Homo sapiens: one gene and its partners. The protein of the gene in region 6 purifies or fractionates together with the protein of the main gene of each other region. This does not show direct contact. Each region holds a gene or a part of one and is shown on either strand. Other genes may lie near its edges. The genes, in order: RRBP1, QKI, COBL, TSFM, UBAP2L, CDV3 and SUGP1.

Evidence for each region.
Region 1: the proteins of CDV3 (region 6) and RRBP1 fractionate together in Homo sapiens (co-fractionation; one large-scale study listed by BioGRID). This does not show direct contact.
Region 2: the proteins of CDV3 (region 6) and QKI fractionate together in Homo sapiens (co-fractionation; one large-scale study listed by BioGRID). This does not show direct contact.
Region 3: the proteins of CDV3 (region 6) and COBL fractionate together in Homo sapiens (co-fractionation; one large-scale study listed by BioGRID). This does not show direct contact.
Region 4: the proteins of CDV3 (region 6) and TSFM fractionate together in Homo sapiens (co-fractionation; one large-scale study listed by BioGRID). This does not show direct contact.
Region 5: the proteins of CDV3 (region 6) and UBAP2L fractionate together in Homo sapiens (co-fractionation; one large-scale study listed by BioGRID). This does not show direct contact.
Region 7: the proteins of CDV3 (region 6) and SUGP1 fractionate together in Homo sapiens (co-fractionation; one large-scale study listed by BioGRID). This does not show direct contact.

Annotation. Positions count from the first base shown.
Region 1 is NC_000020.11:17,679,443-17,683,561, forward strand, and holds the start of RRBP1 (ribosome-binding protein 1), read right to left. Parts: upstream 2,801-4,119; 5' UTR 2,586-2,800; intron 634-2,585; 5' UTR 557-633; intron 1-556. UniProt on the Homo sapiens protein: Acts as a ribosome receptor and mediates interaction between the ribosome and the endoplasmic reticulum membrane.
Region 2 is NC_000006.12:163,421,218-163,424,717, reverse strand, and holds part of QKI (KH domain-containing RNA-binding protein QKI), read right to left. Parts: intron 1-3,500. UniProt on the Homo sapiens protein: RNA reader protein, which recognizes and binds specific RNAs, thereby regulating RNA metabolic processes, such as pre-mRNA splicing, circular RNA (circRNA) formation, mRNA export, mRNA stability and/or translation.
Region 3 is NC_000007.14:51,030,310-51,033,809, reverse strand, and holds part of COBL (protein cordon-bleu), read left to right. Parts: intron 1-2,900; coding exon 2,901-2,998; intron 2,999-3,500.
Region 4 is NC_000012.12:57,789,287-57,792,786, reverse strand, and holds part of TSFM (elongation factor Ts, mitochondrial isoform 2 precursor), read right to left. Parts: intron 823-3,500; coding exon of another isoform or gene 760-822; intron 1-759. UniProt on the Homo sapiens protein: Associates with the EF-Tu.GDP complex and induces the exchange of GDP to GTP. It remains bound to the aminoacyl-tRNA.EF-Tu.GTP complex up to the GTP hydrolysis stage on the ribosome.
Region 5 is NC_000001.11:154,227,455-154,230,954, reverse strand, and holds part of UBAP2L (ubiquitin-associated protein 2-like), read right to left. Parts: intron 2,341-3,500; coding exon 2,230-2,340; intron 1-2,229. UniProt on the Homo sapiens protein: Recruits the ubiquitination machinery to RNA polymerase II for polyubiquitination, removal and degradation, when the transcription-coupled nucleotide excision repair (TC-NER) machinery fails to resolve DNA damage.
Region 6 is NC_000003.12:133,576,686-133,580,185, reverse strand, and holds part of CDV3 (protein CDV3 homolog), read right to left. Parts: intron 1-3,500.
Region 7 is NC_000019.10:19,310,510-19,314,009, forward strand, and holds part of SUGP1 (SURP and G-patch domain-containing protein 1), read right to left. Parts: intron 1-3,500.

The DNA of each region.
Region 1 (4,119 bases), on a different chromosome or scaffold from region 6:
AAACAAGATTTTAGCAAAGAAAAACTTGCTGTCTCAACAGAACTGTTGATCCTCTATGTGTCATTCATCTATTAGTTAAAATTCCCAGGGCTAAAAAGACAAGAAGAGTCTGGGGTCCCGACACTTTTAAAAGGTGTCCCTGCTACATAATAAATCAATACTCCAATTCAATCACTGGCATTCAACCATTTAAACTGAGTTTGCTGCTATGTAATTATTGCAGCCTGTTGAGTTAGGGCTCATTTCATTAAAGAGCATAATTGCTCAAATGTGACTTGATTTAAGATTTATTTAAAACTCTTCCATCACCAAAAAATACTCATATACCATGAACCACTGTAACTTCTTAATCTCTCTGTAAATGTTCAGAGGCAGATTCCTAAGTATGAAAGGTGAGAGTTGTTATAGTGCCTAGAGCTCTAAACCCTCTCCTAAACCCCAAGATCCCTTTCTGGTTTCCCCTCCCCCAACCTTAGCCTCCTCCAGGCCTCCACTGGCCCAAGATCCCTGCAAGCCGGCTTTGCGGTGCTCCATGTAAAAGGAAAACTTCACCTACTAGGAGGTCTGCCCCGGCCTTTGCTTCAACAGAGAGGGAAATGGCACCTCCAGGACCTCAGAACCGGAAGCTTCTTTCTGGAAGGGAAAGAGGTTGGCATATGATAGTGGGAGTGACCTTTGGCAAGTTCGTAAACGAGTCAAGACATCACACAGTAAGTGACATGCTGCAGGGTCACAGATTTCTCTAGGTGTCGGATTAACAGGAAGTTAAATCAAACAAGGAGTGTGAGGAGGGAGGCGGGGCAGTGGGAGAATGCCCCCCAGCTGCACAGGGCGGGGTAACATTCGCAGTTGTTCTTCCTGGGAGTGCCAGACAGACGTCCTGGGTCTCTGGGGACACCCAGTTCTGAAGAGGTATCTAATGTGAGATATGAGGCCCTACCAGGCCCATTTCTCCAAATTCCTGAAAATGCCATCCAGATGGCCCCTACCCTGAAGGTTCCAGCACGCAGAGTGAATAGCTGAGCAGTGACGTGGGAGGCTCCTCAGGTCCCTCAGAGTTTCATTTCCTTGGTGCTTCCCAGTCTCTCCTAACCTCTGACCTCTCAGAGTAATTGCCAAATTGCCTTCTGTTTGTACAAGGTCCCAGCACTTCCCGGCGTGGTTCCCGACCCTGTGAGTGGGTGGTGCTGTCTTCAGGCCACAGATAAGAAACTAGGATTCAGAGGGGCTATGGGACCTGCGAGTAGGCGGCCAGTACGTGGTCCGGGGTGTAGAACCCCGGCTGTGCAACTTCTGCAGCCCCGCGCCCGCCGCAGTGCCGGAGCCAGGCCCCACCTTCCTCCCGTGTCCAGCACCCCCCAACAAAAGCATCCCAACTGAACAGCCAACACTTGTGGCTCCTTCCTACAAGTGCTGGGTCTCCACAGCTTTCCTCGCAAATCGAAGCTAACAGGAGCCCCGATTTGCAGACCAGGAAATGGAGACCCCGAACGAAACAACTTGGTCGGGGTCACCCTCGCCAGCCGGGGCACTCTAGAGCTAAAACTCGCGACTTATCATTCGGAGAGGGGTCCCTGAAGCACTGCGGGCGCCCCACTGGAAGCGCAGACCCCGGCCTGCCTCCCCTAATCAGGGCGCAGCGGGAGAGCCGGCCGGGCCGGGGCGGGCACCAGGCCGGGTGCCAGCGCGCTTGGCCGGCCCGGAGGTGTCCGCTTCCGCCCGGGGCTGGCACCGCCGGCCCATTCATCGTGGCCGCGGGCGGGGCGGGCCGGGCCCCGGGCGCCCTCGTCCCCCCGCCGGGAGCCCTCGAGCCAGGCTCCGCGCAGCCCAGCCGGGGAAACGGTGGCCCCGGCCCCGCCGCCAGGGGGAGCAGGGAGCCGCCTCCCGCACTCCGGGAAGTTGCCACCGCGGCCGCCCGGCGTCCGTGCCATGGACAGACCCGGTCCCTGCGCCGCGAGCCCTGCGGCCCCGGCCCGCCCCGTCGGGGGCCGTCCCAGCCCCGCGAAGCGCCAGCGGGCCGCGGCCCGGGACCGGCGCGCTCGGCCCGTGGGCCCCCATTCAATCCCGCCCTCCTCCCCTCGGCCGGCCTCCGCCGCCTTCCGCCCGCACCCCACCCCTCCGGCCCGGACTCCAGCCCGGCAACGTCATCCGGCGGCTTCCCGAAACTTAACCCCTTCCTCCGCCAGCTGTGCGCCGCCCCGCCCCGCCCCGCCGCCAACTTTCTTCGCCCAACTTCGGAGCGCGCTGGCCGGCCCGACGGCCCTGCCGGGAGGGAGGGAGGCAGGGAGCGGTCGCCACGTCGCGCCCGTCTGCCGCCGCAGCTCCCCGGACGGCGAGGGCCGCGGGGTCCACACCACGGGGCGCGCCCTGCCTACGCCCCGGTACGGCGCTTGCCCGGCACCCCCGCCCCGAGTCCGACCCCGACCCCGATGGTGCACGGCCGCGGCGGCAGGCGGCGGGCGGCGGGCGGGCCGGGGGAGGGGCCGCCGAGGAGACGTGTCACTCGCGGCGCAGCGCGGCCGGCCCCGGCCCCCCGACGGCCCGGCCCGCGCGCGGCCGCTGCAGGGCCCGGCCAAGTTTCTTACCTGCAGCCAGAGACGCGAGAGGGAAAGCGAGAGGGCAGGAGCCGCCGCCTTCGCAGCCGCCGCGGAGCCGGGAGAGAGGAGCCGGCCAAGCCTCCGCCAAGAAACCGCCCCCGAGCAGCTGTAGACGCTGCGACCCTGACGCCGCCCGCCCCGTCTGCCGTCCGCTCCGGCCGCTCGCTGGCTGCGTGCGCGCGTGTGGAGTCGTGGCACTTTCTGCCTCAGAGCTGGCGAACGGCCCCCTCCGCCGGGATCGCCGCCTCCTGCCTTCCCCACCCGGGCCAGCCATTCATCGAGCCGCCTCTTCCCATTGGTCCGCACCCCGCCACTCTGCCGGTCGCTGGCCAGTCAGGACGCGGGTGGCCGAGCCGCGGCGGCGGCCATTGGGCAGAGAGGAGGGTCTCCACCTCGGCCAATGGGAGAGGGGAGGAGCTGCGGGGAGGTGAAGGGGGCAGGGCTGGGGAGAGGCGGGGCCGAGCGGCGCGGCGCTCGGCCGTGCGCGGGGCGGGGCGGAGCAGGAACGCCCCGCCCACCGAGGGGGGGGTCTCCGGCCAGCTCCGCCCACTCTGGGCCCGCGGCGCTCCCAGCAGTCTCTGACTAGGATCCGGCTCTGCCTAGGCGGGAAGCAGAAGGTTCGGGTCCCGGCGACCCCGGGCCTGCGCCTCTGGATACCGCTGGGCTGACATGGCGGTGGCTGAACAGGGTTGCGCAACCGCGAACAGCCAAGGAAGCTGCTTTATTTAAACCCAACTAACTTCCCCCGAAGCAGCGCCCCCTCGGGCCGCCGGGTATGAGGACAAGCTCTGCTGGGGGTCAGCCCAGGGAGAGCAAGTTCTTATCATCAAAGAGATTGCAATCAGCACCAGAAGGAATTTCCTTCAGTAAATGGAGGAATTGGGGTGGAAGAGCCAGAAGGTGCACGAGGAATTGAAGCGGATGTCATCGCCCTCGTTGTTAGGGAGGGTACAACTGAGGCACGGTCTATTTAAGATACTCAACCAAATCACAGCCGGCAGAGCAATAATTACAATCCACTCTGTGGCGTTTTATTCCATGCGTTGGGGAAGGTGAGAGGTTCTAACCTAAGAAAACTCATCCGTGTCCCACAAAACGGAGCAACTGGTACTTCCTCATTCCCTGACTTTCTCCCCAATATCAGCCAACACTCAGTCTTCATAATTAGTCAAGTCTTTAAATTAAAATAATTTTAGGCTTGATTTTTAACCATTATGTCAGCGTCTCTTAAAGCCAACCCTTTGAACTTGAGCCAAAGCCAGCTTCTTTGGAATTTTGGATTCTGAGCGACCAAAGGCTGCCTAGACTGCCCCCCATCACTTCCCTAGCTCCTGTTGCTGCAGAATCCCGTGCCTAACATCTATTTCTTGGACAATTTTCAATCTTCCCTGTCCCCATTTGTCACTAGTACTGTACTAGCTGTTGTTAGAAAGATGTGAAAAATACAAGCCTTCATGGGGAATAAAGAGCGATTGGGTTGAAATTAAACTGTTCATTCCTATTTTTAATCTTGGCGGTTCCT
Region 2 (3,500 bases), on a different chromosome or scaffold from region 6:
AGAGGTTGCAGTGAGCCAAGATCCAGTGCTTTGGCAACAGAGAAAGACTCACACAAAATTAAAAAAAAAAAAAAAATTAAAAACCAAGCAGTGATGCTGCTACTTTATAGTATGAGAGGCTCTTCTGAATACCCATCAACTTCAGAGTATTTGGATTTGAGGTTGGCAGGGCAGTTGATAATTTCATTCACAGATGAAGAAGCTTGAGGTTCAGAGACATTAGTTATCTCACCCAAGATCACCAAACCAGTTAATTGCGGAGTCATGATTAGATCCCAGGTCTATAGTACAAGAATGCTTACCACTTCATCACAGGGTCTCATTAGCATATGCACAAAAACATAAATTCATTTCATCTTTATGCTGGCTCACGCATGTGCAGGCACACACATACAGAGTTAAAACTTGAATACTCTCATGATAATGGCATCACTGCAACCACGGTGGAATCAGCGACAATAGACAATTAGATGCGGTTTCAGGGTAATTTTTTTGATCCCAGTTTGAAATTTTTTTTTCTTAAAAAAATGTATTCACCTGCCATGTAACAACTGTATCAAAGGGATATAATTGCTGTAACATAGCAAAGAACTGTGGCTTACATTTAATTTGTTTGAATTATTTGAAATGAGCAATCATCCCCCAGATGCTGGCATCAGGAATACGATATAGTAGCTACCTGGTGGCTATCTGGTGCAGCACCGTTTCCATTCAATTCATAACCATCCACCTCCTGGGTGTCACTCTTCAGTTATCTACCTGATATATCATTGGGCTGTTTACCCCAGGCTGATCTAAAACTGATACAAGTATACATTCCTAACTTGAATCACTTAGCAATAGCATACTTCTCTATTAAATCACCCAGCCAAAAATGTTTCCTCTTGAGTAGTAAAAATAATAGCAGCAACAATTTTTACATTATTCAAAAAACTGAGGCTCTAGCCTTTGCTTACAAAGAAGTGAATGAGCTGAAATCCTCTAAAAATGGCTTTCTCACTTTTAGCCTCTTAATTAGAAAGTTATCGTTAAAAATAAATTCTAGTTCTAAGAATCTGACCATCATTTGTTCAAAACCAGCATATCACAGAATTAGCAAAAAATCATTTGGTTTGTCTTCTTTACCTTCACAACTTGAGGCAACAGCAGCAGATTTTTAGCATATGGAAATATTCCAGGTTTTTCCCTCCAGTTCCCCTTGTGGAGAGGCACGCCACAAAATGGAACAGAGGGCAGAAGTGAGTGTCTTGCTCTAGCTCTGCTGCCCACTTGTCTTTGCACCTATGAAATGAACATATACTCCCAACTCTCAGGTCCCCTGCAGCTCTAAAACACAATTCTCTGATATAATCTGCAAAGTAAGTTTGAGACCCTGTAAAACTATGACATTGAAGAGTTTACAAAAAAGGTTCCAAATTTTATTTGTTTTTGAGATGGAATCTCGCTCTGTCACCCAGGCTGGAGTGCAGTGGCGCAATCTCCTCTCCCTGCAACCGCCGCCTACCAGGTTCAAGCGATTCTTCTGCTTCAGCCTCCCAAGTAGCTGGCACTGTAGGCACACTCTACCATGCCCGGCTAATTTTTAGCAGAGACAGGGTTTCACCATATTGGCCAGGCTAGTCTCGAAATCTTGACCTCGTGATCCACCTGCCTCGGCCTCCCAAAGTGCTGGGATTACAGGCATGAGCCACCTCACCAGGCTCGGTTTCAAATTTTAAAATTGCATGTTTGTTTTCTTACTATGCATTTCCCTAATTCTACTCTTAAAATGTATTATTTTTTGTTTGTTTTTTCCTATATATTTCAAACTATAAAATCAGCTTAAAAACCAAGGGCTCCCCAATGATTTGCTACTGACCAGGAGATCAGGCCCAGTCTCTACAATGACCTCTCCTGCACTAAAGCAAAAGCGAGGTGCTTACTTAAGGCCAGCTACTTATTCAATCCCGGGGCCAACCTTTCTCAGCTGGAACTTAACCAGCCCCAGTACTCACAAAGCCCAGCTCACATTCACTGCATGTCTTCACTTACAGATATAAATGCCTGCACACACATGCCCTTTACTTACATTGTGACCATTATGTGGAGCCACTTTATGGATGTAACTGCATTTTGATGTTTTATTTTTTAAGACAGGGTCTCACTGTTGCCCAAGGTGGAGCGCAGTAGCATGATCATAACACTGCAGCCTTGACCTCCTGGGCTCAAGCAATCCTCGCTCCTTAGCGTCCCAAGTAGCTGGGACTACAGGCACACACCACCACATCCGACTAATTATGTTCTTTCCGATACTTCAATATCTGCTTATCTGCTAAGCAGAATATGACACATTCTGCTTATAATAAATAATGTGATATAAATCTTACAATCGATTCATTTCCCCAGCCTCAAAATTTAGTTCTACAAAAATATTAGACTAATACATGAAGCAACTTTATGAACATAATTTATTTTGTTAGACTTGATAGGATTGCCGGATTTTCAAACTAGAGTTTCCGCATCAAGAAACTGAAGACGAAAACATTAAGTGCAGTCCTTTTCTTGCTAATTGTAAGAATTCTAGATAAATCACTTCTGCAATATATTTTTTAAAAATTCATCACAGATTTTCAAACACTGTTACTGCTAAAGCACAGTAATAAACAGTTTAGAGCTTGGTGGCTCACGCCTGTAATCCCAGCACTTTGGGAGGCCGAGGCGGTCAGATCATGGGGTCAAGAGCCGAGGCGGTCAGATCATGGGGTCAAGAGTTCAAGATCAGCCTGGCCAACATGGTGAAACCCCGTCTCTACTAAAAATACAAAAATTAGCCGGGCGTGGTGGCGGGCGCCTGTAATCCCAGCTACTCGGGAGGCTGAGGGAGGAGAACTGTTTGAACCCAGGAGGCAGAGGTTGCAGTGAGCCGAGAGCACGCCACTGCATTCCAGCCTGGGTGACAGAGCGAGACTCCAACTGAAAAAAAAAAAAGAAAAAAGAAATAAAAGAGCTTAGTTTCAGCTAAGTGAAAACTTCAATTTATCAGTTTTCTAAGTAATGGCACTGTTTAAAATTAAAAGACACACCTGTGTTTAAAAACATAGCTATTTGTGTTAAATGACAATCAGCCACATATGATTATACTCAGCTTTCTTTTAAACTAAAATCACTCAATCAAATACAGTCGTTATCCTGAACACACCAAAGCAGCACTTAGGGACAAGAAATCATTCCTATCTATTGTGCCCTGCATGGAGTACAAGAACTATATATGTGGGGACTTTTAAAAGGGTAACTAACGGGGTGGGGAGTTTACCTATATAATTCCATAAATGCCAAAATTTTCCAAGAGCTGAGATGAGCACTGGTAGTTTTTCTCTGCTTATGAATTGATACCCTTTGGTATAAGGACTGACAAGAAACTATACTATTTAAGTAAAGCAATTTTATCTTCCTAAATCTCCTTCCCAACAATGACAGTAAAGTAAAATTAAGCACCTTGGCAGCAAGTACTACAAATAACA
Region 3 (3,500 bases), on a different chromosome or scaffold from region 6:
AAAGTGCTTACTGTGTGCAGTGTAAGAAGAATGCAGACTCCTTTGCAGGAAAGAATTCTTGTTCACTAAAGGACAAAATTATCCTTTTAAATTTTGCTGGCTAAAAATTTGCTCTGTCACTCAAGCTGCTTTGAACTCAACCAAGCACAGTTCTAAAGAAAAAGGGTAAAATATTCATCCTAATTCATCCTTTTCCTTAAGTCATGCTGGTTGGTTTCTTGTTAGATTTCTGTCTCCGCCTTGTCCAAAGGTATTTGCTATTTTTAAATCATCACAGTGTTTCTATATATGTGTGTGCTGATTTCTTCACATAACATGCTAACATAAGCATGGATGTGTGTTTCTACATAGACTTAATGATCATCATATTTACTGATTTTAATGCCCTTTGAAATATATATGTAATAATTTAGGTAACTGCCTAGTGCTGGACATTTCTAGAATTCTTACATGAACTTTGTTGTATTTATATTTTTCCTTCTATAGGGTTTCCTTAAAGCAGATTATTAAAAAAGAGATTAATGGGCCAAAGTTCTTACAAAGATAACGTGATTTTTGTTTGTGTGTTTTTTGATATGTATTTCCACATTGCTTTCCAATTAAAACCTGTAGCAACAAGTGTGGGTCTGTCAGATTCATCACATCTTCATCAGCTTGGGGTGGGTTTTTGTTTTGTTTTGTTTTGTTTTGCTATTTTGCAAAATGGTAGAATCAGTGGAGTTTTTATCTTATTATTTTTTTTAATTCTTATTGATATCATTATGTTCCATGTCTCATAGTGACGTGATCAAGCATACTTTAAAATAAAGGCAAATACTTTGAAGTAAAAGTATGTCTGTAATTTTGTTTGGCTGGGCTTTAAGCATCCTAAACTAAGAGCAAGCATTTAAAAAGTTTTCCATCTTTCCAAGTATTTAAATCTCTTTTCCATTTCAGATTGCTCTTTTATATGGCAATTTCCATTTTTCTCTGCCATATATTTTATTAAAAATTTAAATGTATTTAAACCATCTCATTCCATGAAAGAGAAAAGCAGAACTTTAGTAAAGTGCATTCAAATAATTAAAGTCCATGGCAAAAGCAATAGGGAAGACAGTCATGCACCTCTTGTGGTCCTTATTAATGGGTCCACATGCACACACATCTCCAACCAGCCCCCTTTGTGTAGCTTGTCAGAGGACATTAGCTGAGACTAATCTGGAAGCCACTTCCTGGCTCCCAAATGGACATAGTCACCAAATCAGAAAGACTCATTTATCAGAATAAAAACTTTGCTACGTGAGGATTGTGCAAAGCTTATTTCATGCATCATTATCTGGGCCTGATTAGCAGTGATGGAAATTGGTCCTCAATTTTTAACAATCAGCGGAAAACAAACCTTCAGCTTTCACTGAAGATAGACAATTGCCATAGACATGTCTCTGTGTTTTCTGCACAATAGGAAAATAGAGGCAAGAGCCCTTGCAAAGACAGTTTTTAAATTGTTTTGGCAGCAGTTGTCTCACAGATGCCATTGTCCCTGTGACGCAAATGAAGCCAGATCCCGCTCTCTGAGCAGACGGGTTGACATCTTCCTGGATGCCCCGTGCCACAGGGGCCACATTATTATGTGTTGTGGCCCCAGATGCAGCTGGTCCTTCTTGGGCTTTGGGGGCAGGCAGGCCTGGTTCCAGATGCCAGTGTGACCTGGGCAGCTCTGTAGTCTCTCCGTACATAGTTTCATCACTGTACAACAGTGACAACAACACTACCTGCCTGAAAAACTGTGAGGGTTATAATAAGATAATTTATGCAAAAGAGCTCTGTGCGGGGGCTGGCACAAAGGCATGCAGACAGGCCTCACACTGCTAGGAGCTTCCTCCTGTTAAGTCTGAGAGGAGGCCCTTGGGAAGGGTCTTGCGGAGTCAAGGGTGGAGCAGTTACTCCTGCTACTGTTGCTGTGAGGTTTTTTGGCCATCCTTATTGTCCTTATGTCCCAGTTCAAGATTCTAGGGAGTACAGCTCTTCAAGTGGCATTATCAGGCCCCCAAGCCCTGCCCCTGCAAGTGGCATTATCAGGCTCCCTGTCACCCACCAAGGGTAGGAATTAAGCCAAAGTAAACATAGAGTCTGTAAAAGTCATTTATAGTAGAGGAGTGAAATTTCTCGTTTTCTGAGTCTGGCAGGGTGGGCTACTGCTAGGGTGGACACAGATGGAGGCTGAGCTTATGAAGTTGGTGGGACTTCTGGGAACACTCCCCCATGCAGCCCTGCACAACCCTCCCCACGGACCTCCTAACAGCAGGCAGATCCTGCACCAGAGGTATGTAGCCTTTATCACTGGGACCTTGAACGACGCTGCACTCAAATCCGCAAGTGCCAAGGAACAGCCGGGCTGTGCAGTGTTGAGGTGAGGTGGACCAGCCTCCAGCCACGTGCACATGCTTGGCCTCCAGATGGCTTCACTCCTTCTTGCCAGGTGCCAGGTGCAGGGGACTGCTGTAGCGCAAGGCACAGATGCAAGCAAATCCTGGATCACGTGAACCGTCTTTTGTGCGGTGGAATTAAAACTTTGACTTCAGTCTGCAGAGTGAATGAAAGCTGTGTGTGGTTTGGTTACTGTAACACTTTGGGGCCCCACACACACACCATATATCACATGTCCACCACATACAAGACATATACTCCACACATGCACACACGCTACACGCATCCCACACATACCTGTGCACACACATGGGGGACACACACACCCATGAACAATCTGCGTCTCCGTAGTTCTGAGGACAACAGCAGTACAGTGAGTATGTGACTGCTTGAATTTGAGTATGAGCTGTTCTATCCTCAGATATTCCTGGAAAGGAGTACATTAAATCAATAGTAAGAGAAATGAGTGCTCCTTTCTCTTTGGTCTTCCCTAGAACTGAAAAAGCTGTCACAGCCTCAAATGATGAAGAAGACCTATTAATTGCTGGAGAGTTCCGTAAAACCCTTGCAGAACTTGATGAAGACCTGGAAGGTAAGAACCACCTGATCCGCTACTCTGATATTATGCTGCATGAAAGTAGGTGCCAACAGTAACTTCCTCTGAGCATACTTTGATGTATCTATGTGAGGAAACAGCCTTCAGAAGGAATTCCAGGTCAGTTTGGTGAAAGTCTGGATGTGAGGCGCACACAGGTTTCCGGTAGACTGCTTTTTATCTGGGCTGCCAAGCAGTACCTGGAAACATCCAGACAACTGCTTACAGTGTGCTCTGAATAATACTAATTCAGTGCATTAAAAAAGTATGCCACACATGTTAAAGAATAAAAAGGGTGGCGCAAAAAATAAACAGATTTCCTCATTAAGACTTCTCTTAATTTGTTGATATATGGCATATCTGTCAATGAGAAATACTCAGCCTTTTGACCACAATGAAGCCATTTATAATGGAGCATCTCATGGCACTGCTATTATATTGATATATTTTGGGGAAATAATACTGGAAGGCCAAAGCAGATGGCAAATAGTTGCAGTAA
Region 4 (3,500 bases), on a different chromosome or scaffold from region 6:
AACCCCGTCTCCAACGAAATACAAAAATTAGTTGGGCATGGTGGCACACGCCTGTAATCCCAGCTACTGGGGAGCCTGAGACGTGAGAATCGCTTAAACCTGGGAGGCGGAGGTTGCACTGAGCTCAGATTATGCCAATGCACTCCAGCCGGGGAAACAGAATTGAGACTCCATCTCAAAAAAAAAAAAGAAAGAAAGAAAACATTCTTTAAGACAACTAAGTGTAGACAATATTTTCATAAAGGCAAGAATGTTAAAAATTGGTAACAGTTCCATCTTTATAAACATTTTATTCTATCACTGCACCACCCCCAATTACATTCCACTCTCATCCTCCAGCCTAACTTCCTAGAATGTAATTTCCTAGAAATCAAGAACAATTATTTTCTTTTTCTTTTAAATATAGAGATGGGGTTTCCCTATGTTGCTCAGGCTGGTCTTGAACTCTTAGCTTAAGAGATCCTCCTGCTTCAGTCTCCCAAAGTGTTGGGATTACAGGCGTAAGCCACTGCACCTGGCCAAGAACAGTTTTTTCTTTTTTTTGAGATGGAGTCTCGCTCTGCCGCCCAGGCTGGAGTGCGGTGGCATGATTTCAGCTTACTGCAACCTCCACCTCCCGGGTTCAAGCGATCCTCCTGCCTCAGCCTCCCGAGTAGATGGGACTACAGGCATGCGCCACCATGCCTGGCAAATTTTTATATCTTTTTTAGTGGAGACAGGGTTTCACCATGTTGGCCACGCTGGTCTTGAACTCCTGACCTCAAGTGATCCACCTGCTTCAGCCTCCCAAAGTGCTAGGTTTACAGGCGTGAGCCACTGCACCTGGCCAAGAACAATATTTTCATAAAATCATAAAATGTTAGAGCTAGATTTGCACATTTTTGATGGGAATGCAAAATGGTACAAATCCAATGGTGTGAAGTTGTAGTATCTAATAAAACTACATATGCATTTATCCTTTGACCCTGAAATCCTATTTCTATGAATTCACCTTGATGATATACTTCCAATAATACTGCACAAGATTATTCATTGAACAATTATTTCTAATCAGAAAATTTTAAAAACAGCCTAAATGCCCAAACATAGCAGGAGATTAAACTATAGCACATCCACACAACAGAATACTATGTAGTTGGAAAAAATAAAAAGGATGACCTTCATGAATTGCTATGGAGTATTTCCAGGACATATTATTAAGTGAAAAAAGCAGATTATAAGTGTATATGCATATTATACTACTATCTGTGCAACAAAGAACTATTTGTATAAATATGCTTATTTTTGCAAAAAGAAATACTGAAAGGATAACCACAATCCAATGACACTGGTTATCTAAATAAAGGGATGGATAGGAACGGGGTAGAAGGGAGAGAAGCAGTAAGACTCCTCTGAGCATACTTTTTTTTTGACAGTTTTAACTTTGAGGACTTTCTTAATGTATCTTATGTATTCAAAAATAAAATTGAACCTGGCCGGCCGGGCGCGGTGGCCCACGCCTGTAATCTCAGCACTTTGGGAGGCTGAGGCGGGTGGATCACCTAAGGTCAGGAGTTCGAGACCAGCCTGGCCAACATGGTGAAACCCCATTTCTACTAAAAATACAAAAATTAGCCAGGTGTGGTGGCGGGCACCTATAATCTCAGCTACTCAGGAGGCTGAGGCAGGAGAATCACTTGAACCCAGGAGGCGGTGGCTGTAGTGAGCTGAGATCATGCCATTGCACTCCAGCCTGGCTAATGAGAGTGAAACTCCATCTTAAAAAAAAAAAAAAAAAATCTGGCCCAGTGCCGTGGCTCATGCCCATAATCCAGCACTTTGAGGAGGCCAAGTCAGGCAGATCACTTGAAGCCAGGAGTTTGAGACCAGCCTGGCCAATATGGTGAAACCTCATCTCTATTAATATAAAAAAGATTTAAAAAACAAACAAAAAACCCCGAAGTGCTGGAATTACAGGCATGAGCCACTGTGCCCAGCCAAAAAAAAAAACACACATTTAAAAAATAAAATTAAAATAAAATTAAATCAACACATACTTGGGGTGAAAATAAATACTGACTACAAAGAAATATAAAACTATATTTCAAATGAGTAACATAAGCTCACAGAAGGAAAAAAAAAATCCAAATAACTAAACGGAGTCATTTGACCACCTAACTTCAATGTAAAGACAAAAAGAACTACAAATAAATCTTGAACTCCTTAGTAGTTTTGTTATTTGCAGTGGTCAGGGGTAGCAATTCTGAAACAATTTTGTATATATATTGTAACACTTAGTACATATGAGTACATAACTAAAAACAGTAAACATATTGAAGTTGCTATGAAAAAGGAAGGATTGAACCACACGCACACAGCACATACACCTGCACTGTCTGCTCGAAGAACAAATGACATCTCAGTAGAAATCAGCACACCTGGCCAGGCGCAGTGGTTCACGCCTGTAATCCCAGCACTTTGGGAGGCCAAGATGGGTGGATCACGAGGTCAGGAGTTCAAGACCAGCCTGCCCAACATGGTGAAACCCTGTCTCTACTGAAAATACAAAAATTAGCTGGGTATGGTGGCACGTGCCTGTAATCCCAGCTACTCGGGAGGCTGAGGCAGGAGAACTGCTTGAACCGGGACCCAGGAGGCAGAGGTAGCAGCGAGCCAAGATCGCGCCACTGCACTCCAGCCTGGGCTACACAGCAACACTCTGTCTCAAAAAAAAAAAAAAAAAAAAAGAAAGAAAGAAATCAGCACACCTAACATTCAAATCTTGATTTCTAAAAACCATTCCCCAACTAAAAAGGACCAGGACTCCTTGAAGAAGTGGCCCATTCCACAGTTGGGGAAAGGAAAGTATGACATAAACCCAAAAGATAAGAATAAACAAAAAAGCCAAAAAGTAAGAAAATACTCAGAAAATAATAAGGGCATATCAAAGGACATTACAGTCAGCTTGCATTGATCAAATCCGCAGATAATTTGAGCATCAAAACGAATAATGAGTTATAACTTATTGTATAAAATAAGAACCCACGAGTCAATGTTAGTGCTGAATAAATCACTAAATAAAAATGAGAAGGGAAATTTATTTCTAACAGTAGAATGACAACTACTAAAACTAACACATTTTGGCTGGGTGCGGTGGCTCACGCCTGTAATCCCAGCACTCTGGGAGGCCAAGGCGGGCAGATCACCTGAGGTCAGGAGTGCGAGACCAGCCTGACCAACATGGCAAAACCCCATTTCTACTAAAAACACAAAAAAATTAGCTGGAAGTAGTAATGCATGCCTATAATCCTAGCTACTCAGGAGGCTGAAGCATAAGAATTGCTCGAACCCAGGAGGTGAAGGTTGCAGTGAGCTGAGATCACAACACTGCACTCCGTCTCAAAGAAAAAAAAATCCTAAATGTGATCACTGTCCTGTGGTTATATAACAATGTCCTTGTTTTTACGAGATACATGCTGAAGGAATAAAGGATCCTGATGTCTGCAACATACTTACAAAAA
Region 5 (3,500 bases), on a different chromosome or scaffold from region 6:
GCTGCTATCTCAAAACCTGGCAAGTTTCAGGAAACTGTAACCTTTCTCCCTCCTCTGTATGCACATCTGTTGCTGGCACAAGATGGGTCAGGAGAAAGAATTACTATTATCTTCCCAAAGGCGACTTCAGTTTTCTGAAATGATCTCACCCACCCAAATACATCCAATATCCCTGGGAGCTGACTTTGCTTCCCATTGGTTTCACTAGTAGCTAGTTTATTCGTAACATAAACCTATATTCTCCAGCTTATTTTCCTTTTTGATACTGTATAACATCAGCCTTATAGCACTAGACAGAAGATGCTGGAAGGTAAGATAAAATGTGATTTGCGAAAAAACATTCAGACTTTTAAAAAAACATAAATAGCCCCACCTGATTCCCCCCATAAAATCTGGAGACAATTATTCTAGAGTAAACCCAAAACAAATCAAAAGCATATCTTGATTGGCCAGATAGTAAATATTCAAATAAGGTCAACAGTGTAAAATTTAATCCAGGATAACACTTTTGAAGAAAAAACCCACCAATTTAAATTCAATTGTTTTTAAAAGTTTTCCATTATTATTTCCCATTGTCTCAAAGAAATTGACAAACCTCCTGCATTTAGCTGGAGTGACTCTGTAGTATCAGAAAGCTGTTGTATCTGAGGCCAGGTTTCATGGCTCACGCCTGTAATCCTAACATTTTGGAAGGCCGAGGCAGGAGGATTGCCTGAGCTCAGGAGTTCAAGACCACCCTGGGCAACATAGTGAAACACTGTCTCCACTAAAATACAAAAAATTAGCCAGGCATGGTGGTGCATGCCTGTAGTCCCAGCTACTCGGGAAGCTGAGGCATGAGAATTGCTTGAACCCAGGAGGCAGAGTTTGCAGTGAGCCGAGATGTACTCCGGCCTGGGAGACAGAGAGAGACACCGTCTCAAAAAAAAAAAATTAGCTGGGTATGGTGGTGAATGCCTGTAATCCCAGCTACTCTGGAGGCTGAGGCACAGGATCACTTGAACCTGGGAGGTGGAGGCTGCAGAGAGCAGGTTCACGCCACTGCACTCCAGCCTGGGCAACAAGAGCAAGACTCTGACTCAAGAAAAAAAACAAGTTGTTATCTGTAAGGATGAATTTTGATATCTATTCCAACCAAAGAGCCCCAGTATAAGACCCAATAAATGAAAATGATTTCAAAATAATACACTGGGCCAGGTGCGGTGGCTCATGCCCATAATCCCAGCACTTTGGGAGGACGAGGCGGGCAGCTAGCTTGAGTCCAGGAGTTTGAAATCAGCCTGAGCAACATGGAGAAACCCTGGCTCTACTAAAAATGGGAAAATCAGCTGGACATGGTGGCCCATGCCTGTGGTCCCAGCTACTCAGGAGGCTGAAGTAGGAGGATCACCTAAGCCCAGGACGAGGAGGTTGCAGCATGTCAGTGTACTCCAGCCAGGGCCACAGAGTAAGACCCTGGCTCAAAATAATAATAATAATAATAATACACTGCTCATTAAAAAAACAAAATTTCTCTAGTAAGCACTGCAGGAACATTCTGAAGATCAATAAGGCAGTCAGAGGATTACAATTTGGTACAAACATAAGACAAGCATAAAAACAGAATTCTCATGAAGTGGGAAGGAGAAGTGAAAGCGACTTGTCTAAATTCCAGGGCAAGAGATCCTCCAAGATATCCCCTATCATCTCCAGGGATGGTCAGCAGGCTACAAAGCTTGTTTCTCTGCTACCTCAACAGAAGGAAGTTCAGGCAATGAAACAGTAGTGTGCAATGCGAAGCTGATATTGAGGGGAATGTCCTGAATTCAGAATCAAATATGTAAAATAAATAAAATAAAATAAAATAAAAAGAAAAAAAAACAGAATCAAGTATAGTGTGTGACTTTGTTCAACAGCAATATCCAAGGCTATCAAATCGCACCTCTAATTCAGCCTAACCCCACAGCCTGAAAACAGTCACTAGCCTGGAATAAATAATTTATTCCAGGCCAATTAGCAGAGACTGATTTCACTGTTTTCTCCTATGAGCATTATCCTCATAAAAAGGATGTAGTACACATAAATTTTAAGTATTTATAACCTGTGGTGAACAATCTCCAAGAAAGTTCCCAACTTTACTTCAAGAAAAAGGTGCTCTGCTTTAAGGTATGTTGCCATTTGCTACTTTTAGAACATTACTAGCCTCCCAATTGAGGACCCATGTCCTAGAACACTCTATAAGCACTCTACCGTGTCTGGGTTTCCTTCCAGAAGAACATTGATAGCTCTGTTGACATCTCCATTGCAGTCATGCAAAGCAATCACACATTCATCCTGGTTCTTGCCTGTAATATCAATCAACTGAAAGAGAAAAAACAGCAACCATCATGAACAGGCTTATGCTCACACTCCCAATGAAAGGAAACTAGGTGAAGGGAAACGCTATCAGTTGAGTTTGAAAAAAACAAGTTTAAAAAGCAAAAGATGAGGGCTGGGCACAGTGGCTCACGCCTATAATCCCAGCACTTTGCAAGGCTGAGGTGGGCGGATCACCTGAGGTCAGGAGTTTGAGACCAACCTGACCAAAATGATTAAACCTGTCTCTACTAAAAATACAAAAATTAGCTGGGTGTGGTGGCGGGCGCCTGTAATCCTAGCTACTTGGGAGGCTGGGGCAGAAGAATTGCTTGAACCCAGGAGGCGGAGGTTGCAGTGAGCTGAGATTGCGCCACTGCACTCTAGCCTGGACCACAGAGCAAGACTCCGTCTCAAAATAAAAAAAAAAACAAAAAAGAAAGAAAGAAAAATGATGTAGAATTTGCCTAGCAGGTTTTCCAGAACCACCCCCCCAACCCCCGCCAAAAAGGAAAACATGTAGAATTTTGGTATTCTATTTCCAAAAGCCAAATATTAACATCTGTGGTTCAGGGATGAGGTCAAAAGTATTTACAAAGCAATTAAGCATCAAATACAGAATCAAACTCTGAAACACACAGGCTTCAGCATGAATTTCCACATTTCCTATACCCACAACTGCTCAGTTTCTACAAAATGGCATCAGCAACAGGCAAGAGGTTAAAATTAAGATAAAATTTCCAAACAAAGTATCTATCCAAAGGGCTACAATAGGCTGGGTGCAGTGGCTCACACCTGTAATCCCAGCACTTTGGGAGGCTGAGGCAGGCAGATCACTTGAGGTCAGGAGTTCGAGACCAGCCTGGCCAACATGGTGAAACCCCATCTTTACTAAAAATACAAAAAATTAGCCAGGCATGGTGGTGAGCGCCTGTAATCCCAACTACTCGGGAGGCTGAAGCACGAGAATCGCTTGAACTCGGGAGGCAGAAGCTGCAATGAGCCAAGATCATGCCACTGCACTCCAGCCTGGGTGACAGAGTGAGACTTCATCTGAAAAAAAAACAAAAAACAAAACAAAGGGCTACAAAAAATTAGAGAATGAAAGCACTTATTTATTGGCCTGACCTATTATATTTCAGGTCAAAATTCTTTCAATACCTATA
Region 6 (3,500 bases):
AATGAGAACAAATGGACACAGGGAGGGGAACATCACACACCAGGGCCTGTTGGGGGGTGGGGGACTGGGGGAGGGATAGCGTTAGGAGAAATACCTAATGTAAATGACAAGTTGATGGGTGCAGCAAACCACCATGGCACATATATACCTATGTAACAAACCTGCACGTTGTGTACATGTACCCTAGAACTTAAAGTATAATAATAATAAAAATAAATAAGTATTTTGGGTTAAGATTCTGAAATACTAGCTAAACTAAACATGTGGAAATTGTCTAGTCAAGACTCTTTATCAGCCGGGCGCAGTGGCTCATGCCTGTAATCCCAGCATCTTGGGAGGCAGAGGCGGGCAGATCACTGGAGGTCAGGAGTTCGAGACCACCCTGACCAACATGGTCAAACACTGTCTCTACTAAAAATACAAAAATTAGCTAGGCGTGGTGGCACATGCCTCTAATCCCAGCTACTTGGGAGGCTGAGGCAGGAGAATCGCTTGAACTTGGGAGGTGGAGGTTGCAGTGAGCGGAGATTGCGCCATTGCACCCCAGCCTGGGTAACAAAAGCAAAAACTCTATCAAAAAAAAAAAAGAACGAACAAACCAAAAACACTCTTCATCCAACAATTGAAGGAATTGAAGCCCAGAGATGCTTAGAGGCTTGCCTAAATGCCAGTTAGCAGGGTAGAAATGATTTACATATTTTATTACTTTTTCATCTTTACATATTTCAGAAAGTATCAACTCTCCAAATGTCATAGCAGAACAAGAAACACGTTCCAAACGGTTATTTCCATGGGAGACAGGCTGAAATTCAGTGTTTGACCCAAATATAATATATAGCTTCCCATCAGCTAAATTTTATAAACAAACACTACAATACTGCTGTAAATTCATCACAATTCCACATATACGGTCTTAAATATGTGTAAGTCTGTAAGGCACTACTGGTAAGGTGAGGAGAATAATGATGCTACAAAAGGGAGACTTACTGAATATCTACTACAGCAGGCAGCATTCCACCCCACTGTACAAAGTTAAACCTCACAGTAACACTAAGGCAGCCAAGAGACCCACTGTATGTATGTATGAGGAAACATAAGTACCTTCCCCAGGGCTACAAAGTAGCAGAGCCAAAATAGTGTGGGATTCTAGAGGCTCTATTATTTCACATTACCTTTTAATTCATTTTATCCCCTTTATAGCTCTAAGGTATGATGCAAAAATATTCTCTAAGATTTGAGAAATGCATTTTCTTTAGTAAGGCTGATAGGATCACACATCCTGCAGCAGTATATTTATAAAGAATAGAACAGCCTTATCTCTTTACCTCAAGAGACATGAGAATTTATACATCCTAACTCCCCTTCCCCAACACTAGGGGGAAGCAGCTAAAACAAAAATCAGACTGGATTGAGCTGCTGGAATACCGGGCATCTCCACAGGTTTGTCCCTATTATACCTAGCATTGCTGCAACAGTAAAATGGGGAGATACACATGGCCTGATCAGCTATGCCTGGCCTGGAGGCTTAAAATGGCACTGCACCTCATCCAAAGAATCTTTCCTGACCCCTTCATGGATGATGAAATGTCTCTCCTCTGCCCCAGAGCACCATGCACATCTCTTTGAAATTATCTACTGTTGTCTATTACAGCATGACTTATTTCTACAACCAGAGAACCTCAGTGTCTAGCAGAGTAGTCACATAAGTATTTGCTAGAATAAATCCACCTTGGATAATGTAACCAGCTCTACCTAAAAGGTTTAAGTCTAGATTTCTCACCAAAGTTTCTAGAAAACCACTGGGCTCCAAGAACTCAATTATTTACTGAAACGTGACAAATGCTCAACAGTGTATACCTTCAAGAATTAAATCTTTCTAACATTCTCCCAAAAATCCACTTTAAAGATGGAAGTGGCTGGGCCTAGCAGCTCATGCGTGTGATTCCTTTGCTTTGAGATCACTTGCGGCCAGGAGTTTTGAGACCAGCCTAGGTAAAATAGACCTCATCTACAGAAAAAAAAAGTAAGATTAGTCAGGGGTGGCAACTCACACCTGTAGTCCCAGCTACTCGGGAGGCTGAGGTGGGAGGATCACTTGAGCCCAGGAGTTCAAGACTACAATGAGCTATGATCATGCCACTGCATTCCAACCTGGGTGACAAAGTGAGACTGTCTCAAAAAAATGAAAAAATAGAGATGAAAGAGGCCTACAGGGCCTACAAACAACCAAGGATCTAACTCAAATGACAGCCTCCTTTATAACCACCTCAATGGCTTCCCTCTCAAGAATCTGTCTATAACAGCATGACCTTGAATAAGATCTGTTAATTCAGACACAAAACTGGGCACATTAAGTACCTTGGTACTTAAATCTTGAGCTGGTTGGTAAATGTGAAATAGGATCTTAATATATAATACGTTTGCTGCTAATGAAAAATTTCCCCTTTCAAATGTACAGGTAAAGAACTAATATGCTAACTACTATAAGGACCAGGGTCAAGAACTTTAAGATTGTATGTGACATCTGGCTGGGCTCAGAGGCTCATGCCTGTGATCCCAGCACTTTGGAAGGCCGAGGTGGGTGGATCACCCGAGGTCGGGAGTTTGAGACCAGCCTGAACAACATGGAGAAACCCCGTCTCTACTAAAAACACAAAATTAGCCAGGCGTGGTGACACATGCCTGTAATCCCAGCTACTCGGAAGGCTGAGGCAGGAGAATCGCTTGAACCCGGGAGGCTGAGGTTGCGGTGAGCTGAGATCGCACCATTGCACTCCAGCCTGTGCAACAAGAGCGAAACTCTGTCTCAAAAAAAAAAAAAGAAAAAAAGACTGAATGTGACATCTGCAGCTCTCAGTATACCGAGAAATAGAAAAAGATAAAGCACATGTAGCAGAGACTGGTGGATCTGAGTGAAGAACATATGGGAAGGAGTGTTTCTCAGTGTTGCAGGTTAGTGGAATACCTCTACTAGGATGGCCACTTAGGGCCAATGACTAGATGCTAAGAAAACAAAAAAAACAATATAAAAGCTAGTCTAGGCCGGGTGCTGTGGCTCACACCTGTAATCCCAGCACTTTGGGAGGCTGAGGCGGGCGGATCACGAGGTCAGGAGTTCAAAACCAGCCTGACCAACATGATGAAACTCCGTCTCTACTAAAAATACAAGAATTAGCCAGGTGTGGTGGCGGGCGCCTGTAATCCCAGCTACTCGGGAGGCTGAGGCAGAAGAATCGCTTGAAACCAGAAGGCGGAGGTTGCAGTGAGCCGAGATTTTGCCACTGCACTCCAGCCTGGGCAACAAGAGGGAAACTTCGTCTCAAAAAAAAAAAAAAAAAAAAAAAGCTAGTCTACCTTCAGGTTGAACAGAACTTAAATGCTTGTACTAGCTGATACTTACTTATATCCCTGGCAAGGGTGAAGTATGTAAGTTATTTAAGACACTTTTCACTATCTCAAAAGTAACCAAAATAGATCAAGATCAAAATAACCCTGAAGAT
Region 7 (3,500 bases), on a different chromosome or scaffold from region 6:
CTCTCTCTGCACAGCACCTGTCCTCCCTTGCTAGTTGATTATCTGGGTTGTTACTGACTCATGTCTGTCCTCCTGCTAGACCTTAGAGTTTTCCAAGGCAGGGCCTACATGTCTCTCTCTCTCTGTCTCTCTCCCTCTCTATCTATCTATCCGAAACAGAGTTTTACTCTGTCGCCCAGGCTGGAGTGCAGTGGGGCAATCTTGGCTCACTGCAACCTCCTCCACCCAGGCTCAAGAGATTGTCATGTCTCAGCCTCCTGAGCAGCTGGGATTACAAGCATGTGCCACCACACCTGGCTAATTTTTGTATTTTTGTAGAGATGGGGTTTCGCTATGTTGGCTGGGCTGTTCTCGAACTTCTAACCTCAAGCCATCCTCCCACCTCATCCTCCCAAGGTGTTGGGATTACAGGTGTGAGCCACCACACCTGACCTATTTATTTAAGAGACAGGGTCTTGCTCTGCTGCCCTGGCTAAAGTGCAGAGTGCAATGGTGCGATAACAGGGACTGCAGGCATGTGCCACTCTGCCTGGCTAATTTTTTAATTTTTTTTTTTTTTTTTGGTAGAGGTAACATCTCACTATGTTGCCTAGGCTGGTCTTGAACTCCTGGCCTCAAGCAATGGTCCCACCTCAGCCTCCCAAGTCACTAGGACTAAAGGCATGTGACACTGTTCCTGGCCAATGCCATTTTTTTGACAGGCATGAAGGGCAGCTCTGACAACAGTATATCAGCTGTGCTCAACTTTGATTTAAATATATTTAGGCCCCTGGGTTTGCCTTTGTGCTAACTTGTTAAAAACATATTTTTTAAAAAGTAAAACATATACTTTGCAAAAAAAAAAAAGAGGGAGAGAGTGAAGATAAAATATAAAATGCCCTGTGATTCTTCCAGCAAGATTGCTTTGGCTGTTTTCTTAGAAATGTTTGATGCCCAGGCTGGGCGCGGTGGCTCACGCCTGTAATCCCAGCACTTTGGGAGGCCGAGGTGGGCGGATCACGAGGTCAGGAGATAGAGACCATCCTGGCTAACACAGTGAAACCCCATCTCTACTAAAAATACAAAGAATTAGCCAGATGTGGTAGCAGGCGCCTGTAGTCCCAGCTACCCGGGAGGCTGAGGCAGAAGAATGGCGTGAACCAAGGAGGCAGAGCTTGCAGTGAGCCAAGATTGCGCCACTGCACTCCAGCCTGGGCGACAGAGCGAGACTCTGTCTCAAAAAAAAAAAAAAAAAAAAAAAGAAATGTATGATGCCCAAAGAAATGCTTGCAGATCCCAGCTCTGAGCTGCAGGCCCACATGGGTAAAGAAACACAGGCTTTGGCTAAGCATGGTGGCTCATCCCTGTAATCCCAGCTACTTGGGAGACTGAGGTAGGAGAATCACTTGAGCCCAGGAGTTTGAGGCTGCAGTGACATATGATCATGCCACTGCACGTCTGCCTGGGCAACAGAGTGAGATCATGTTTCTTAAAACAAAAAAAAGTAACAGAGGCTCATTATGGAACAAATGGAAATGTAGAAAAACTGAAATAAGCCTAGGCAATATGGAGAAAACCCCATCTCTACGAACAAAACAAAAAATTAGCTGGGTGTGGTGGCGTGTGCCTATAATTCCAGCATTCCAGAGGATCACCGGAGCCCAGGAGGTCAAGGCGGAAGTGGGCCGCAATCATGCCACTGCACTCTAGCCTGGGTGACAGAGTAAGATCATTTAAAAAAAAATAAAAAGAAAAACTGAAACAGAAAGGAATGGAAAAACCCAACAATGTCTCCCTACTTTGCAACAGCCACTATTAACACTGGTATATATCTTTATTTTGCTCTCTAAATTAGAAGTCAGAGGAAATAAGGCTGTGATCACAGCACACACTCTACTTCTTCCATTTCCTACTGTAGCACACCATCCTGCTCCAATCTCAAATTCCTCACATACGCTGCTTTTTAAACCCGCATGACGTTCCACCATATGGATGTACCCAATGGTGCAAAAAGCTCATGGAGTCCACAGGGCTAGCCTTTTTCCTTTAAATAGGAGAAAGGAATAATTTTTAGTTCATCAGAACTAAAATAACCTAAATACATCAACAAGGGGCACTGGTTAAATAAATTACGGGCCATCCACAGGGAAGATGGGGCAGCCCTGAAAAGTTGAAATTTTAGACAAGCAATCAAATACAATGTTAAAGGAAAAACAAGGCCAGGCGCGGTGGCTCACGCCTGTAATCCCAGCACTTTGGGAGGCCAAGGCGGGTGGATCACGTGGTCAGGAGATCGAGACCATCCTGGCTAAAACAGTGAAACCCCGTCTCTACTAAAAATTAAAAAAAAAATTAGCCGGGCATGGTGGGGGGCACCTGCAGTCCCAGCTACTCAGGAGGCTGAGGCAGGAGAATGGTGTGAACCCAGGAGGCAGAGCCTGCAGTGAGCCGAGATCGTGCCACTGCACTCCAGCCTGGGCAACAGCGCAAGACTCCATCTCAAAAAAAAAATAAATAAATAAAATAAATAAATAAAAAAAAACAAAAGGACAGGCTATAAAACAGTATCTACAGTGTGGTTCTACTTACATCAAAATACATTTGAATTAAAAATTGTTACAAAGGCCGGGTGCGGGACCTCACACCTGTAATCCCAGCACTTCGGTAGGCCAAAGCAGGCGGATCACCTGAGGTCAGGAGTTCAAGACCAGCCTGGCCAACATGATGAAACCCCGTCTCTACTAAAAATACAAAAAATTAGCCGGGCGTGGTAGCGGGCACCTGTAATCCCAGTCACTGGGGAGGCTGAGACAGAAGAATCACTTGAACCCAGGAAGCGAATGTTGCAGTGGGCCAAGATCGCGCCATTGCACTCCAGCCTGGACAACAGAGTTAGACTTCATCTCAAATATAAAAAAAAATTGTTAGACAAACACATCGGGCCAGGAGCAGTGGCTCACACCTGTAAACCTAATGCTTTGGGAGGCCAAGGTAGGAGGATCACTTGAACCCAGAAGTTCAAAACCAACCTGGGCAACATAGTGAGACCCCATCTACACAAAATTTAAAAATTAGCTAGGCATGGCAGTGGACATCTGTAGTCCCAGCTACTCAAGAGGCTGAGGTGGGAAGATAGCTTGAGTCCAGGAATTCCAGACTGCAGTGAGCTATGATAGTGCCACTGTACTGCAGCCTGGGTGACAGAGTGAGATCCTGCCTCTGAAATAAAACAGGCCCGGCACGGTGGCTCAAGGCTGTAATCCCAGCACTTTGGGAGGCAGAGGCGGGTAGGTCACCTGTGGCCAGGAGTTCAAGACTAGCCTGGTCAACATAGTGAAACCCTGTCTCAACTAAAATACAAAAAAATGGCCGGGCTCAGAGACTTATGCCTGTAATCCTAGCACTTAGGGAGGCCGAGGTGGGAGGAACAACCTGAGGCCAGGAGTTAAAGACCAGCCTGGCCAACATGATGAAACCCCATCTCTACTAAAATACAAAAATTAGCCGGGCACGATGGTGGG